Regions from separate parts of the Homo sapiens genome. Here regions 1 and 2 are each linked to region 3. The links come from fine-mapping of genetic effects on gene expression. A gene starts in region 3. Each other region holds a variant in brackets. All regions are shown on one strand. Distances are from middle to middle.

Region 1 (5,000 bases), 76 kb before region 3:
CTCTTGCCTCTAATCCCAGCCCTTTAGGAGGCCAAGGCGGGTGGATCACTTGAAGCCAGGAGTTGGAGACCAGCCTGGCCAGCACGTCAAAACCCCATCTCTACTAAAAATACAAAAATTAGCCAGGCATGGTGGCACACGCCTATAGTCCCAGCTTCTTGGGAGGCAGGAGAATCCCTTGAAACCCGGAGGCGGAGGTTGCAGTGAGCCAAGAGTGTGCCACTGCACTCCAGCCTGGGCGACAGAGCGAGACTGTCTCAAAAAAAAACAAACAAACATAATGTAGTAGTAGTTTTTATCTCTATCTTGTTGGACTAAAATTCCTGAAGGCGGGAACTTGTCTGTTGTTCACCATTATATCCCCAGTGTCCAGCCTAGTGTTCATAGAAGGCACTTAGTAAACACAGATTAGTAAGTAAAATGGCCAACGAAGCTGGATCTAGGAAGAAGAGAAGGTAACTTCCAGTGGATGCCATCAAAGGGAGAGGGCAAGCACTGTAACAGCCTTTCTCAGTCCTTTTACCTAGAGGAACCCTTACAGAGATTTTTTTTTTTTTAGGTTTCAGAGAACCCTCACATAAAACTTACTGCACCTGGCCGGGCACTGTGGCTCACTCTTGTAATCTCAACACTTTGGGAGGCCGAGGTGGGTGGATCACCTGAGGTCAGGAGTTTGAGACCAGCCTGGCCAACATGGTGAAACCCTGTCTCTACTAAAAAAACAAAAAATTAGCTGGGCATGGTGGTGGGCACCTGTAATCCCTGCTACTCGGGAGGCTGAGGCAGGAGAATCGCTTGAACCTGGGAGGCGGAGGTTGCAGTGAGCCGAGATTGTGCCACTGCACTCCAGCCTGGGCAACAAGAGTGAAACTTCATCTCAAAAAAAAAAAAAAACAAAAAACAAATTACTGCCCCCATAACTGCTGACATTAGTATGATCAGTATGTCGTAGATAGAATCCTTCAATAGTAATTATCAGTGCTTTCCAGTAGAGCCGTTTCACTGTGGATCTGTGCATTATTTTGCTGAGGCTGCCGTAACAAAGTGCCACAGACTGGGTGGCTTAAACAACAGTAATTTATTTTCTCACAGTGATGGAGGCCAGAAGTCTGAGATGAAGGTGTCAGCAGGCTTGGTTTATTCTGAAGACTCTCTCTCTCTTTGACTTGTAGATGGTTTTCTTTTCTTCCCTCCATGCCTGTCTGTGGACAAACCTCCCCCTCTTGTAAGGACACTAGTCATATTGGATTAGGGGCCACTTTGATCTCTTCATTTTATCTTCTTGCCTCTTTAAAAGTCCTGTCTCCAAATACAGTTAAATTTCGAGGTACTTGAGGTCAGGACTACAACAGATGAATTTAGCGGGGACACAGTTCAGCCTGTAACAGTCTGTTAATTTGGCCAGGTCATTAGCTACTCTGTGTGGTTCCCTTCCCCACACAGGTGTCAGTTCTAATGGCAGTCAGTAAGGTAGATAAAACCTTCCATTTTTATCTTTTGTTAAGTTTCCTACTTGAGGTTTTTTAACCTTATTTAAAGTTCCTAAAAGTCTTATAATAGATTTCCATTATACAAGATGCTAATTAGGTATATTTTATATTACATGATATGTATAGGGTAGTTAGTCCATTTTCATACTGCTATAAAGAACTGCCAGAGATGGAATGATTTATAAAGGAAAAAGGTTTAATTTACTCACAGTTCTGCAAGGCTGGGGAGGCCTCAGGAAACTTACAATCATGACAGAAGGTGAAGGGAAAGCAAGGCAGCTCCTCCACAAGGTGGCAGGAAGGAGAAATGTCAAGTGAAGGGGGAAGAGCCCCTTCTAAAACCATCAGTTTTCATGAGAACTCACTCACTATCATGAGAAACCACCTCCATGATTCAGTGACCTCCATCTGGTCTCTCCCTTGACATGTGGGGATTATGGGGATTACAATTCAAGATGAGATTTGGGTGGGGACATAAAACCTAACCAGATCAGTAGTGTTTTTTCCTTTTCTTTCCTTTTCTTTCCTTTCCTCACTTCTCTTCCCTTTTCTTCCCTTCTCTCCCTTCTCTTCCCTTCCCCTCCTTTCCCTCCCCTCCCCTCCCCTCCCATTGCCTTCCCTCCCCTTCCCTCCCCTCCCCTTCCTTCCCTTCCCCTTTTCTATGACAGAGTCTCGCCCTGTCGCCCAAGCTGGAGTGCAGTGGCGCATTCTCAGTTGACTGCAACCTCTGCCTCCCAGGTTCCAGTGATTCTCCTGCCTCAGCCTCCCTGAGTAGCTGGGACTACAGGCATGCGCCACCATGCCCGGCTAATTTTTTGCATTTTTTAGTAGAGACGAGGTTTCACCATATTGGCCAGGCTGGTCTCGAACTCCTGACCTCGTGATCCACCTGCCTCGGCCTCCCAAAGTGCTGGGATTACAGGCATGAGCCACTGCACCCAGCCTCTTTTTCTTTTTTTTGAGACAGAGTCTTGCTCAGTTGCCCAGGTTGGAGTGAAGTGGTATGATCATAGCTCACTGCAGCCTTAAACTCCTGGGCTCAAGGGATCCTTCCATCTCAGCCTCACAAGTAGCTGGGAGCACAGGCAAACTGCACAGTGCCCAGACAATCCTTTTATTTATTTATTTTTTGTAGAGACAGGGTCTTGTCATGTTGATCGGGTTGTGTTTTTTCTACTTTAAAACGAAAATTATGTTCAGTTAAACTTCCTTAAAAAAATATAGCGAAGCTTTCTTGAAATTAATCTTCTCAAAATTTTGCCAGGTGCAGTAGCTCACACCTGTAATCCCAGCACTTGAGGCCAAGGCTGGCAGATTGCTTGAGCCCAGAACTTCGAGACCAACCTTGGCAATGTGGCCAAACCCCATCTCTACAAAAAATACAAAAATTAGCTGGGCGTGGTGGCACATGCCTGTAGTCCCAGCTACTAGAGAGGTTGAGGTGGGACGATCGCTTGATCACACCACTGCACTTCAGTGCTCCAGCCTGGGTGACAGAGGACAGAGTG[C/T]GACCCTGTCTTTAAAAAAATATACACACACACACACACACACACACACACACACGATGAATAGAGGGAAACAATAAATTTCTGTTAAATAACTGGCTTAAGACAAAATGGGTTTTAATTTTTATTAGGTTATGTTCAGACTTGGTATATTTAAATATAGGTTGTAAATTGATTTTAATAAATGTAAAAGTTTAAAAGTTGATTTTAATGTAAAAAAATGAAAATTTACTGACAATGTTGATTAGTAAAACAACTAAAAATAAAGCTACTAAATGATAAGCCTAAGCAATGTGAATAAAAATGTGGCCTAAGACACAATTTTATGCAAAACTGAGAAACATGATTTAGCTAAATATAGGCCTTGCAGTTAGAAAAGGCCAATACACTTGCTTTTAAAAATCTTTTTATAGGCATATGTGTATATAAAAAAATGCTACTTTCAAAACTAAAAATATGGAATGAAATTTACTTCTATATATATATTTTGTTTGTTTGTTTGTTTTGAGATGGAGTCTTGCTCTGTCCCAGGCTGGAGTGCCCTGGCAGGATCTCGGCTCACTACAACCTCCACCTCGTGGGTTCAAGCTATTCTCCACCTCAGCCTCCCGAGTAGCTGGGATTATAGGCGTGTGCCACCACGCCTGGCTAAGTTTTGTATTTTTAGTAGAGACGGGATTTCACCATGTTGGCCAGGCTGGTCTCGAATTCCTGACCCCATGATCTGCCCGCCTTGGCCTCCCAAAGTGCTGGGATTATAGGCGTGAGCCACTGCTCCCGGCTGAAATTTACTTCTTTAATGTTTAACTTGTCATTGTTTTTTGCTCTACAGATACTTAGTTCTGATATGAACTTGAGCTAAGCACAGACAGATTTCATTTTCAACTAAGATGAGACCGTTTCTGTTTTTGCCTTTGATGTTTGTTAAATAAGACAAAGCTAGAGCCAGGCGTGATTGTTTGCGCCTGTAGTCCCAGCTACAGTAGGCTGAGGCAGGAGGATCCCTTGAGCCCGGAAGTTCAAGGCTACAGTGAGCTATGATCATATCACTGCACTTTAGCCTGGGTGGCAGAGTGAGACCCCATCTCTTAAAAAAAAAAAAAGAAGAAAAAAGTCAGCAGCATAATGTGCATTATATTTCTATGAATGGCAGGATTTTCTTTATGCAAATCTAGAACTTACCTAGGAATGGAACAGTAAATTACAATCACTTATACCTTGAATCTGTGCTTAGATTGTGTAGCTCACAAAGTTTTATCTCTTGTCTTGACATCAAATTCTTTGGTTGCACTGAAGATTTAGAGTTATAAATCTTAAGTATAAACACAAGTTTATAGCTGTATTACAGGCACGCCATCACACCCGGCTAATTTTTGTGTATTTCTTGTAGAGATGAGGTTTCGCCATGTTTACCAGGCTGGTCTCCAACTCCTGACCTCAAGTGATCCGCTTGCCTTGGCTTCCCAAAGTGCTGGGATCACAGGCGTGAGCCACCCACGCTCAGCCTGTTTACTTTTGAGACAAGGTCTCATTCTGTCACGCAGGCTGGAGTGCAGTGGTACCATCTTGGCTCACTGCAACCTCCACCTCCCAGGCTAGTTTTCTGCACTTTTAGTAAAGATGGGGTTTTGCCATGTTGCCCAGGCTGACCTCAAACTCCTGAGCTCAAGCGATCCACCTGCCTTGGCCTCCCAAAGTGCTGGGATTACAGCCGTGGGCCACCATGTCTTGGGCCTCTTTTGTAGGGGCACTAAACCCATTTATGAAGATAGAGCTCTCATGACCTAATCGCTTCTCAAAGACCCCACCTCCTAATATTACCACATTGGGGATTCAGTTTCAACATATGAATTTTAGGGGAACACAAACATTCAGACCATAGCAGATTGTTTACGTTTTTGGTTCTTATGAATAAATCTCCTGTGAACATTCATGGACAAAAGTTTGTGTGGACATGTTTTCATTTCTTTTTTTTTTTTTTTGAGACAGGGTCTCACTCTGTATC
Region 2 (5,000 bases), 120 kb before region 3:
CGTTGGGATTACAGGCGTGAGCCACTGCTGCTGGCAAAAAAAATTTTTAATTAATATGTTTATATATGTTTCTGAGGTATATGTGATATTTTGTTACATGCATAGAATGTGTAATGATCAAGTCAGGGTATTTGGGATATCCATTGCTTCTAGCACTTACCATTTCCATGTGTTGGGAACATTTCAGTGGCTCTCCTGTTTCAAAATACACAATAATGTTCTTTTCTTTTCTTTCTTTCTTTTTTTTTTTGAGAGGAAGTCTCCTTCTGTTGCCCAGGCTGGGGTGCAGGGGTGCCATCTCGGCTTACTGCAACCTCCACCTCCCAGGTTCAAGCAATTTTCCTGCCTCATCCTCCAAAGCAGCTGGGTTTACAGGCATGTGCTTCCACACCCAGCTAATATTTTTGTATTTTTAGGAGAGACAGGGTTTCACCATGTTGGCCAAGCTGGTCTCAAACTCCTGACCTCAAATGATCTGCCCACCTCGGCCTCCCAAAGTGCTGGAATTACAGGCGTGAGCCACTGCGCCCTGCCAAAAAGAGGTAGTTTTTTCCACCTGGAGTTTAGGGACAACTCAGTTTTAAATGTAAATGTGTTAAATGTATTTTCTTCATTCCTTTCTCAGCATCCTACTCTGAACGGTTTTAGGATTAACAGTTTCTTAGGATTTTTAGCAAAATAAGAACTTAAAATATCACTGGGTTATTGTATTGAAGTTATATAACTGGTTGTCAACATGCGTTTGTATGTGTTTGCACAGATGGAGAATACTTTCTCAGCAAAAGTGTGGTGGGATTTTGGTGCCTTGAAATGCTGTTGTCATAGTTATTTCACAAACTGTGGTTCTAGGGCTAAACAGAGGAATGGTGGTAATCAGATTCTATTGTGACACTTTCTTGGCTTGATTGCTTTGCTTTATTTCACTGCAGAGATAGCTATATGACTGTTGTTCAGACTAATTGGTAAGCAAAAGCTGCTGTTACTGGATTTTGTAAAATAAGAATCTTTGGTGATATCATATAGAACAATATAAAACTGGAAAATTTAGGTAGTTTTTATTAAAATTTATGACATTTGAAATATTAGTGTACAGTTCAGTACAAGATCTTGTTAGTGGCATTATTGATGTGTTTAGAGAAAATGTTAACTGAGGTTTTAGCAGAATCATGATTTATGCCACATGTTGTGATTGTAATTATCATAGCTCAAGAAAATGCAAACGCCATGTGGTAGGAGCATGCCCAGCATGCTGGAGAAACAAAAGTAGGCCTGTGTGGCTGGAGCAGAGTGAGTAAGGGGGAAAGTGGAGGAGGTGAAGTCAGGTGATGGAGAGAGTAGTGTAGGATTGATCTTGTAGGGCCTTAGAGGCTATTGTAATGACAAAGGAGATAGAAAGATTTTTTTTTTTTTTTTGAGGCAGAGTTTTGCTCTTGTTGCCCAGGTTGGAGTGCAGTGGCATGATCTTGGGTCACCACAACCTCCACCTCCCAGGTTCAAGGGGTTCTTCTGACTCAGCCTCTCGAGTAGCTGGGATTACAGGCATGCACCACCACGCCCGGCTAATTTTGTATTTTTAGTGGAGATGGGGTTTCTCCATGTTGGTCAGGCTGGTCTCAAACTCCCAACGTCAGGTGATCTGCCTGCCTCAACCCCCCAAAGTGCTGGGGTTAACAGGCGTGAGCCACTGTGCCCGGCGAGAGATTTCTTTTATCAGAAATGAAACACAGTGGGCTGGGTGCTGTGGCTCACGCCTGTAATCCCAGCACTTTGGGAGGCTGAGGTGGGCAGATCACAAGGTTAGGAGATCAAGACCATCCTGGCTAACACGGTGAAATCCCGTCTCTACTAAAAATACAAAAAATTAGCTGGGTGTGGTGGCACGTGCCTGTAATCACAGCTACTTGGGAGGCTGAGGCAGGAGAATCGCTTGAACCTGGGAGGCAGAGATTGCGGTGAGCAGAGGTTGCGGTGAGCCGAGATTGCACCACTGCTCTCCAGCCTGGGTGACAAAGCAAGACTCTGTCTCAAAGAAAAAAAGAAAAAGAAATGAAACACAGTGGTCTGTGTTTATTGCATCGTAAGTAGTTCTGAGTAATAGTCATTGCCTAGGTGACTTTACTGTAGCAGGTAAGAGTGCAGACCCTCACTTTATTCTGCTTAAATATGGATGCTGGCATTGCCATTTGTGGGCTCTCTGACCTTAAAGTTACTTGACCCCTCACTTACCTCTGAGTTGAGCATAATAGTAACTTTACATTGTTGGTAGGAGGATCAGATGCATTAGTACGGTGAAAGTTGCCTGGCATGTAGTAAATGCTCAGTAAATATGTTATTTGTAAGCTCTGTTATTTCCTCTGGAAAGTTTTCACCGTCTCTGCCTTAGCCAACTCCACCATCAGAGGTGCTCACCCTGCCGTGTCTTTTTCTGGGGAGGGGGATATGGTATAATTCATGTGCTATAAAATTCACCTTTTAATGTGTACAGTTCATTGGTTTTCAGTATATGCACGAGACAACTATTGCCACTGTCTAATTTCAGATTATTTTATTTGGAGGTTCTTTGCAGTAATTGTCTTAGTTGTAATCTTAAACATTTGTTTGTGTGACTGGTTGATTTCTGTTTCTTGTCCTAGACTGTGAGCTTCATGAGAGCAGGAGCTCTCTCTTTTTGTTTCCCATTATACCACTGCCGTTTAGCCCAGTGATTGACACATAGTTGGTGCTAAATAAATATTTGTTGAATGAAGAAAGATATGATGTGGAAGGTCCTGTTGGACCCCATTGTGAAGAGCTGTGTGTGTCTGTGTGTGTGTGTGTGTGTGTGTGTGTGCCATAACAGAGTTAGACTTGATCCTGTAGAGATGATCAGAAACCACCAAATGTTTTTATTGTTGTTATTTACTTTATTTATTTGTTTATTTTGAGATGGAGTCTCACTCTGTCGCCCAGGCTGGAGTGCAGTGGTGTGATCT[C/T]GGCTCACTGCAACCTTCGCCTCCTAGGTTCAAGCGATTCTTCTGCCTCAGCCTCCCGAGGAGCTGGGACTACAGGTGTGCGCCACCATGCCTGGCTAATTTTTGTATTTTTATTAGAGATGGGGTTTCACCATGTTGTCCAGGCTGGTCTTGAACTCCTGACCTCAGGTGATCTGTCTGCCTTGGCCTCCCAAAGTGCTGGGATTACAGTTGTGAGCTGCCATGCCCAGCCAGAAACCACCAAATGTTTTTAAAAAGTGGAGTGATAGAGTCAGGTTTGTATGATAGAAAGATAATTCTAGAGCCAGAATTATTGGAAGAGAGATAGTTGGTGCAGTAAGGGAGATTAAAAATAAACAGGAAGAGTAGTTAGGAAACAAATTGTTGTAGGCCTGACTTGAGGACCTGAAGAAGAGAAAGATCCAGTTGAAAAGCAGTAAATAGATCGGATGGAGAGTGTGTGTATGTGTGCGTGTGAATGTGTGCATGTGAGGGAGTGAGTGCTTGCGTGCATGCACATGTAAGTGTGTGTGAGAGAGAGAGAGGAAGGAAGGAGGGAGGGAGGGAGATAGCTGGAATTGAGGATAACAGATTTATTGCTTCAGCAGCCAGGCTTGCCTTTCCTTTAAGATAGAAAATACTGCTTGAGAAAGGAGTAAGTTTAAAGGGTTGTGAGAATAAGGAGTTTTATTTTGGCTGTGTGGAGCTTGAGATAGATGCCTGCCATGTCCAGAAAGATGTTATCCTTAAATCTTAAGGTAAAATAGATATGTTAAATAAAACTTTTTGCCTATGTTCAGTGGCTTTAGCATAGTGGGTTCTGGATTGCTGCCTGGGCATCTGCAGCACCCACACACGTCCTCCCTGTGTTTCCGGTTTGCCTGATGAGCGTCACCCTGAGCCCACTGGACCAAGGTTCTCAGGGCAGGGACTGGACTCACTTTGTCCATCTTTGTGCTCCAGGCACCTGGCAGAGTTTATATGTACACTTTTTGTAGAGGTGTAATTTCTGTCTGTGTTGATTTCTTGTGTCCTGCTTTTTACTCAGTTGCATGTTTGTATTTCTATCCAATGACATTCTTGAAAATAGTATCAGTAAATAATAGTCAACATCACAAATTACCAAAGTATAAACAGAGATTTTTGTGATAGAGCTAGTATTTGTGATGGGAAATACAGATGTGAAAGTGTAGAGCATAGTGGTTATCAGCAAGTCCAGACCCGAGACTGTATATTCTGGCTTTGCCTCTTACTAACTCTGTGACTTTGGACAATTTTTTTTTTTTTTTTTTCTTTTCTGAGACAGACTCTTGCTCTGTTGCCCAGGCTGGAGTGCGATGGCGCTATCTTGGCTCACTGCAACCTCCGCCTCCCAGGTTTGAGTGATTCTCCTGCCTCAGCCTCCCGAGTAGCTGAGATTACAGGTGCGTGCCACCACGCCCAGCTAATTTTTTTTATCTTTAGTAGAGATGGGGTTTCGCCATGTTGGCTAGGCTGGTCTCAAACTCCTGACCTCATGATCCGCCTGCCTCTCCCTCCCAAAGTGCTGGGATTACAGGCATGAGCCACAGCGTCCAGCCAACTTTGGACAAATTGTTTAACCCCTTTGTGCCTTATTTTCCTATTTGTAAAAATGGGTTTAATAACACTATATTTCATGATACTGTTAGGATTGTCAGGTGCTTAGAGCATTGTCTGTTACTATATGTAATAAGTAGTTAGGGGCTGGGCATGGTGGTTCACGCCTGTAATCTCAGCACTTTGGGAGGCCAAGGCAGGCGGATCACCTGAGGTCAGGAATTCGAGACCAGCCTCGCCAACATAGTGAAACCCCATCTCTACTAAAAATATAAAAATCAGCCAGGTGTGGTGGCGGGCGCCTGTAATCTCAGCTATTTGGGAGGGTGAGGCAGGAGAATTGCTTGAGCCTGGGAGGCGGAAATTGCAGTGAGCTAAGATCGTGCCTCTGCACTCCAGCCTGGGCAACAAAGTGAGACTGTGTCTTAAAAAAAAAAAAAAAAGTCAGTA
Region 3 (6,189 bases):
GATCAACTGGAACACAATTCCCTTACCTGGACTTTTTTTTTTTTTTTTTTGAGACAGAGTCTTGCTCTGTCACCCAGGCTGAAGTGCAGTGGCACAATCTTGGCTCATTGCAACCTCCTCTTCCCGGTTCAAGTGATTCTCCTGCCTCAGCCTCCTGAGCTGGGATACAGGCACACACCACCACGCCCGACTAATTTTTGAATTTTTATTATTTATTTATTTATTTTGAGACGGAGTCTCGCTTGGTCGCCCAGGCTGGAGTGCAGCTGCACGATCTCAGCTCACTGCAACCTCCACTTCCTGGGTTCAAGTGATTCTCCTGTCTCAGCCTCCCAAGTAGCTGGAATTACAGGCACTCATCACCACGCCCAGCTAATTTTTGTATTCTGGCCTCAGCTCTCTGATCTGCTGGAGGTCCTGACCCTCCACTGGCCCATCCCACCTCCCCAGCTTGATTCTTTCTAGCCTTGGCCACTCCTCCCTGCAAAAGAAAAGCCCTGTCCGGCCTGGCCTGTGAGACCCTCGCAGAACTCAGGGTCCCCTGTTCTCCCCGCTGCACAGCTCCAGACGCCTCTAGCAACAGTCCTCACTTCAGATCTCTCCTCATCCGAGTCCAGGCTCGTGATCAGACGCGCACGTGCTCTCTCCTTCCTGGCTCTGAATCTAGAGTATCCATCAAAGTGTCAACCCGCCAGCATGGAGCTGCGGTCATTCTTCTGCCAGCACCACGGATGGGAGGTGGGAGGGGTGCACAGCGGCAAGGATTTTAAGGATAAAACTCAGGATCTCAGCTGCTTGTGACAAGCCCAGATGGCTGCACGCCCGGACCGCCCACCCCCAAGCCCACTGCCTTGCGTCAGTGTCGGATATTTGATGGCAGAGTCAGACAAGCCCCAGAGATCATCTGAAGCTTCCTTCACACCCCCAAAGCACCTCTATCCAAAGTGGTGTCGCACGAAGCTTTACACGCCGCCTCTGCCTCCCCTGCCCCACAGGTTCCTGAGGAGGCACAGACTGGAGAAACGATTCTCAACTGGTTCTGCGTCAGAGCCTTGAGAATCTGAGAGCTGCAGGCCACCTCTCGGAGAAAGGTGCATGTGTGCACATGCTCCCCAGGGGGTTTTGCAGCATTTTAAAGGGATAACCCTCATGGGCCCAAACTGATAAACCAGCCCGGTCAGGCAGCTGGTATTCGGGAGACGGGCACTGGGCTGGATTCAGACTCCCCTGGCTAAGAACAGAGCTGGAATGAAAATGGACCAACACGTTTACAGATATGACGATGATGCCGATCGGCACACGGCCACCAAGCCAAGGACAATGTTACCCACCTGCCAAGTTCTACCAAATTCTCCTCTCCCCATTCCAAACCACCTCAAATAAACCTATTTCCCACAACTGGTTATCTGCACATTTGAGTCACCTCCCGACAATCACCTTAGCGGCCCCAAGCACGCAGCCAGCACAGTGTAGCTCAGTGTCCCCTTCAGCATCACCACATGCCAGGCGACTGTTACCGTACATGTCCCCTCGAGCTATTGCACCTAAAGCTGGACTTTATTCCAAATCTTCCAGCCCTTACTGCCCCGTTCTAAGTTCCTCCAGAACACTGTCTTTGGTCGTTTCTGGCCTGTAAGACCATGCTCCAATACAATTCACAACGCAAAACTCAGAGACAAAGTCCATCTTATTAGAATGGTTTCTCTGTCCCCCAAGCCCACCCAATGCTAGGACCTCCCTCAGCTGCTCAGATCCCAGTTAATCATCCAAACATGGTGGGGGGCTCTGGAGGGGTATCCTGCCACCACGCCAGCGTGGGAATGAATCTTCTCTTCCACGAGGGGTGCCACCTTGACTCAAGTGTTTCAACTCCACTCAGTCGGAAGTCACCGCGGGACTGCCACACAGTGCCTCAGCAGAGGCCACAAAGAAAGGCAGGGAAAAATGCTAAACAATTCAGCTGATACCAGAAGGGCTCTGGAAGAGAGAATGAAGGAGGGGAACACAGTGGTTCACTATAAAACAGAACCGTAAGATCAGTGCATGTGTACAGCAGGGAGAAAGAAATTGTGCTTTGGTGGAAACCTCTGCCTCATCTTGGCCACACTTTCTCACGTGCTCCTTACGGTTCATACAGACGTAGAGTATTTCTGTGCTATTAAGAGTTCGTTACACCATAAATACAATTTTCACGTGTCAACTTAAAAGTAAATTTTAAAAAAGATGAAGGAGGATGATTGGCGGAAAGTGTCTAAAAAGACTCCTCATGGTGGCGATACTGGGGAGAGGTGGGCAGCACTGGTCTCAACTCTCCAGGACACGCTCAGTGACCGGTGATGGCTCCGTACACTGTAGATGCCAGAGACACTTCCCCAGAGTCACTCGAATTCCGTCCTGTCCCCGAGGCTCTGTGGCCGCTCACCCCCCACCAGGCCTCCAACCAAGCTTCAATGAACCCAGTCAATTAGTGCTACTTTGACTTCTTGAACCTAGTTCCAACGTCTGCTTAGTTCTATCACTGAGGGAATTAAACGAATCTGTAACACGTGTTAAGTATGAAAGTCATATTACAAAAATTCTTTTTCTCCCCCAATTTTTTTTTTATCGTGGTAAAATCCACAGAACAGAAACTGGACACACCTGTTAGCGCACAGCCAGTGGGATTAAATGCACTCGGGGCCTTCCCAGTTGGCCAAGGGGCTGGTGTGAGGCAAAGGCACCTCCGATCAGGTCACAGGGAACCCCACGGGAGGCCCAGCGGATGGCCTGGCTCAGGGACCCCACGCCCACGCCCCAATGTCTGCAGGAGTGGCCTGGGCAACTCCTGCCGTGTCTGGGCCCATGGGAAACGGGTGCAAATCTGCGGTCTCCTTCAAACTGTCCAGTGGGCGACTGCGACCTCGCTTCCGAGGTGGAGGGTGGTATAGACGAAGGGAAACGGGGGGCAGCCTGGCCCGCAGACTGGGTCCTGGCCCTCCTTCCGAGCAGGAGGTGGCTTCGGAACCGGCCACCCGCCCGCGGCACCGACGCCTCCCCCGGTTCCCGGGAGGGACCCCTGCGGGGCCGCCAGCTCCAGCGCTTCCGCGGACAGCACGCGCCCTCCCCACCGAGCCTGCGAGGAAGGCGCTCCGCCTTCCACTTTCTCGGGAGCGAGCCCCAGCTCTCGGGACGCAGTCCACACGCGCTAGCCCAGCACGAACCGGCCTCGGGCAGGGCCGCACCCACCCCCGGGACCAGCCCGCGCCCCGCACCCCGCCTCCCGGCGCCCGCCCTGGACAGGTGCCTCCTGCCCTCCCGGGACCCCCGCACCGGGACACCGCGCGCCTCCCGCCCTCCCCGCGGGCGTAGGAGCCTGAGGCGGCGGCCCGGGGACGCGGCCAACCTGGGAGAGAGCGGGGGCGGGGGCCGGCTGGGGAAGGGGCCGCCCGGAGGCGGAGGGGTCGTCGCGGGAGCCTGGAAGCCCGCGGGGCCGGGCCGGGGCGGCGGGGCGGGTCGGAGGCGCTGGCCGGGGCGACGGCCACCCACCTCCTTGTCCGGGACCCACTGCGGCTCCTCCAGGCCGAACGGGCTTCCGAAGGCGCGGTGTTCGGGCACCATGCGCAGGCCGCTCGGGGAGCGCACCAGCTTCTTGGCGTCGCGGCGCGCGGACACCTCGGAGGACATGACGCCGCCTCAGCCTCTCGGCCAGCGGCCCCGCACCCGGCCCCTCGCCCAGCCCGGGGCACCGCCCGCCCCGCCCCGGTCCGCGCGCGGCTGACAGCGCCGGCGTCCAATCGCCAAGCCCGCCACGGAGCGCGGACTAATCGGAGCTTGAACTCCGCCCCATCGCTGCCCTCTCCAATCCGTGTAAGGGCACCGCCCCTGCAACCCTGAGGTCGATCACCAATCGGCGGCGAGGGCTGGCCCGGGTACGCTCCGCCCCTCTCAGGGAGATTGAGACTTTGGATTGGTTAGTTAGTCAGTCACGTTAGCGCCGCTTCGTCTCTGATTGGTGTAGCCCACTCAGGGTGCTAGGCGCCTATTGGAGGAGAAGGCCGAGAGGAGCAGGACGGCGGGAAGAGGAGTGCGGAACCCGCGGGAGGTGAGGCCCGCCGAGCCGGGCTGCGAGCCGGGCTGCGAGCCGGGCGGCAGCGGGGTCGGAGGTCGTGGGCGGCAGCGGGCGTGAGGGGTGAGGCAGGGTCAAGGGGCGGGGGCGGCCGCGGGTCTCCATTGCCCGAGCCTGTGGGAGCAGGCGGGCCTGGGGCTGCAGCACTCACCCCGGGAGCCCCGCCGCAGCTCGGGTAGCGTTCAGGCACCTCGCCGGGGCCGGGCCGCGTGCGTTCGGAGCGGGGAAGGCGGTCTCCGGGGCCCCCGGTGCGCGCGGGGAGGCGTCCGCTCAGGGGAGGCCGAGGTGGGCCCGCGGCTGCGCCCCCGGCCTTCGATGCCTTCGCTCGTCCGCCTGGGACCGCGCTGGCTTCGCATCGAAGTGGGAGAGGTCTGAACAGTTATTTTAATACTTTGATTTGGAAAGAAAATCCTTTAGGCCGGGCGCGGTGGCTCACGCCTGTAATCCGAGCACTTTGGGAGGCCGAGGCGGGCGGATCACGAGGTCAGGAGTTCAAGACCAGCCTGGCCAACATGGTGAAACCCCGTCTCTACTAAAAATACAAAAATTAGCTGGGTGTGGTGGCACGTGCCTGTAATCCCAGCTGCTTGGGAGGCTGAGGCAGGAGAATTGTTTGAACCAGGACCCGGGAGGCGGAGGTTGCAGTGAGCCGAGATCACATTACTGCACTCCAGCCTGGGCTACAGAAAAAGACTCCATCTCAGAAAGCACACAAAAAAAAGAAGAAAATGTTTGTTCATCCTGCCTTTAATTCCTTATTACAAGGCGTGAATTTTTATTGTTTTTTTTGAGACAGTCTGGCTCTGTCATCCGGGGTGGAGTGCAGTGGCGTCTTCACAGCTAGGCACAACCTCGACCTCCCAGGCTCTCAAGTAGCTGGGACCGCAAGCGCCACTACACTGGCCAGCTATTTTTCTTTTTTTTTTTTTTTTTCGGTAGAGAGTAGGTCTTGCTGTGTTGCCCAGGCTGGTCTTGAACTCCTGGGCTCAGGCGACCTTGGCCGCCTTGGCCTCCCACGGTGCTGGGATGACAGGCATCAGCAGTGTTGAAGCCTGTGAGGTGGGGTCCCTGTGGCTGACTCTGCCCTCTCCTGGGGCCATTGGCAGTGCAGGGGTCCTTGTGTGTGGAGGAAATAAGGAGATGATCAAAGTATGATTCCACGAATCACACGGTTTATTGTCAAAGAAGATTTGTTCTCGGGTTCACAGTGCTCAGAGGGGAGGAGAGGGGAGGAGGTGAAGACACCTGGCAGGGAAGCAGGGCCTCCATGGATGGGGTGCATTCACGGCAGGGAGGTGAGTGGCAGAACGGCCAGGGTCCGGTTGCTCTGCTGGGATGGAGCGGGCCCCTGGAGAGTGAGATCTGGTGAGAGTTCGAGGTTTGCCTTGGTAGCAGTGGAGAGCGTGAGAGCGGGAGCTCTCTGAGAAGCTGGGACCGAGGTCCAGCTCCCAGGCCAGCAGCGTATAGCTTGCCTCAAAGCATCTGCACAACCTTCAAGCTGATGTCTGTTTTTGCAGTCCAGCAGTCAGGGTCAGTAACTCACATAAGGGAGTGTCTGACAAGGTTTAAGTGGCATTCCCAAGGTTGCGGAGTTCACTCAAGTCCTCACATATGTGGTCTGATAAGACATCACACTCTTGCAGGGGGGTCAGGTCACCCCAAAACATCAGACTATGTAAGTGCTGTGAATCACTTCAAAGCTACACAGCAGGTCCCAGGGCCCAAGGCAGAGGAGTGAGTCCACCTCGGAAGGCTCAGAGCAGCTCCAGGCAGTAACCACGGCATTTCCAGAGTCTGGTGTGTGAGCCTAACAGCTCTGGTGTGACCGTCCGTACTCACCTAGCAGCACGTGACATCAGCTCTCCCCCTGAAGTCATTGCTCAGCTCGGGTGCTGCAGGAAGACATACAGGTCTGTCTTGGGCCAGCCCCTTGCCTGCTGTGGGCTGCTCCCTGTGTGTGGCCTTCACCCCGGTGTAGAGAGATGGGCTGGTCACACCCCTGCCCCTCACAGCGGCGAGAGGACAGAGGCATGTGCCGGGCTGTCTGTGGAGCTCCCAGGCCAGTGTCTGGGATGCGGCAGGTG

What was found. PIP is the estimated chance that this variant, and not a neighbour inherited with it, causes the effect. A credible set is the group of variants that fine-mapping cannot tell apart.
Region 1: its variant is the best candidate, but not a certain one, in a credible set for the expression of ZFYVE21 in whole blood (INTERVAL, PIP 0.63).
Region 2: its variant is the best candidate, but not a certain one, in a credible set for the expression of ZFYVE21 in whole blood (INTERVAL, PIP 0.72).

The regions. Positions count from the first base shown.
Region 1 is chr14:103,790,223-103,795,222 of GRCh38, reverse strand. All of the region lies in intron 2 of PPP1R13B (protein phosphatase 1 regulatory subunit 13B), which reads left to right. Among named protein-coding and RNA genes, the nearest start is that of PPP1R13B, 55 kb to the left of the region's middle. RefSeq lists enhancers at 1-73, 74-575. The variant C/T (reference allele first, on the strand shown) is at 2,999.
Region 2 is chr14:103,836,041-103,841,040 of GRCh38, reverse strand. All of the region lies in intron 1 of PPP1R13B (protein phosphatase 1 regulatory subunit 13B), which reads left to right. Among named protein-coding and RNA genes, the nearest start is that of PPP1R13B, 9.0 kb to the left of the region's middle. The variant C/T (reference allele first, on the strand shown) is at 2,973.
Region 3 is chr14:103,713,316-103,719,504 of GRCh38, reverse strand. ZFYVE21 (zinc finger FYVE-type containing 21) reads right to left here and starts at 3,695. Exons shown (of 7, transcript NM_024071.4): 1 at 3,526-3,695. The coding sequence starts at 3,663. It overlaps XRCC3 (X-ray repair cross complementing 3), which reads left to right and starts at 4,054. Exons shown (of 10, transcript NM_005432.4): 1 at 4,054-4,081. RefSeq lists enhancers at 821-1,331, 4,568-5,253 and silencers at 2,882-2,961, 3,022-3,091, 3,192-3,271, 3,462-4,031, 4,112-4,371.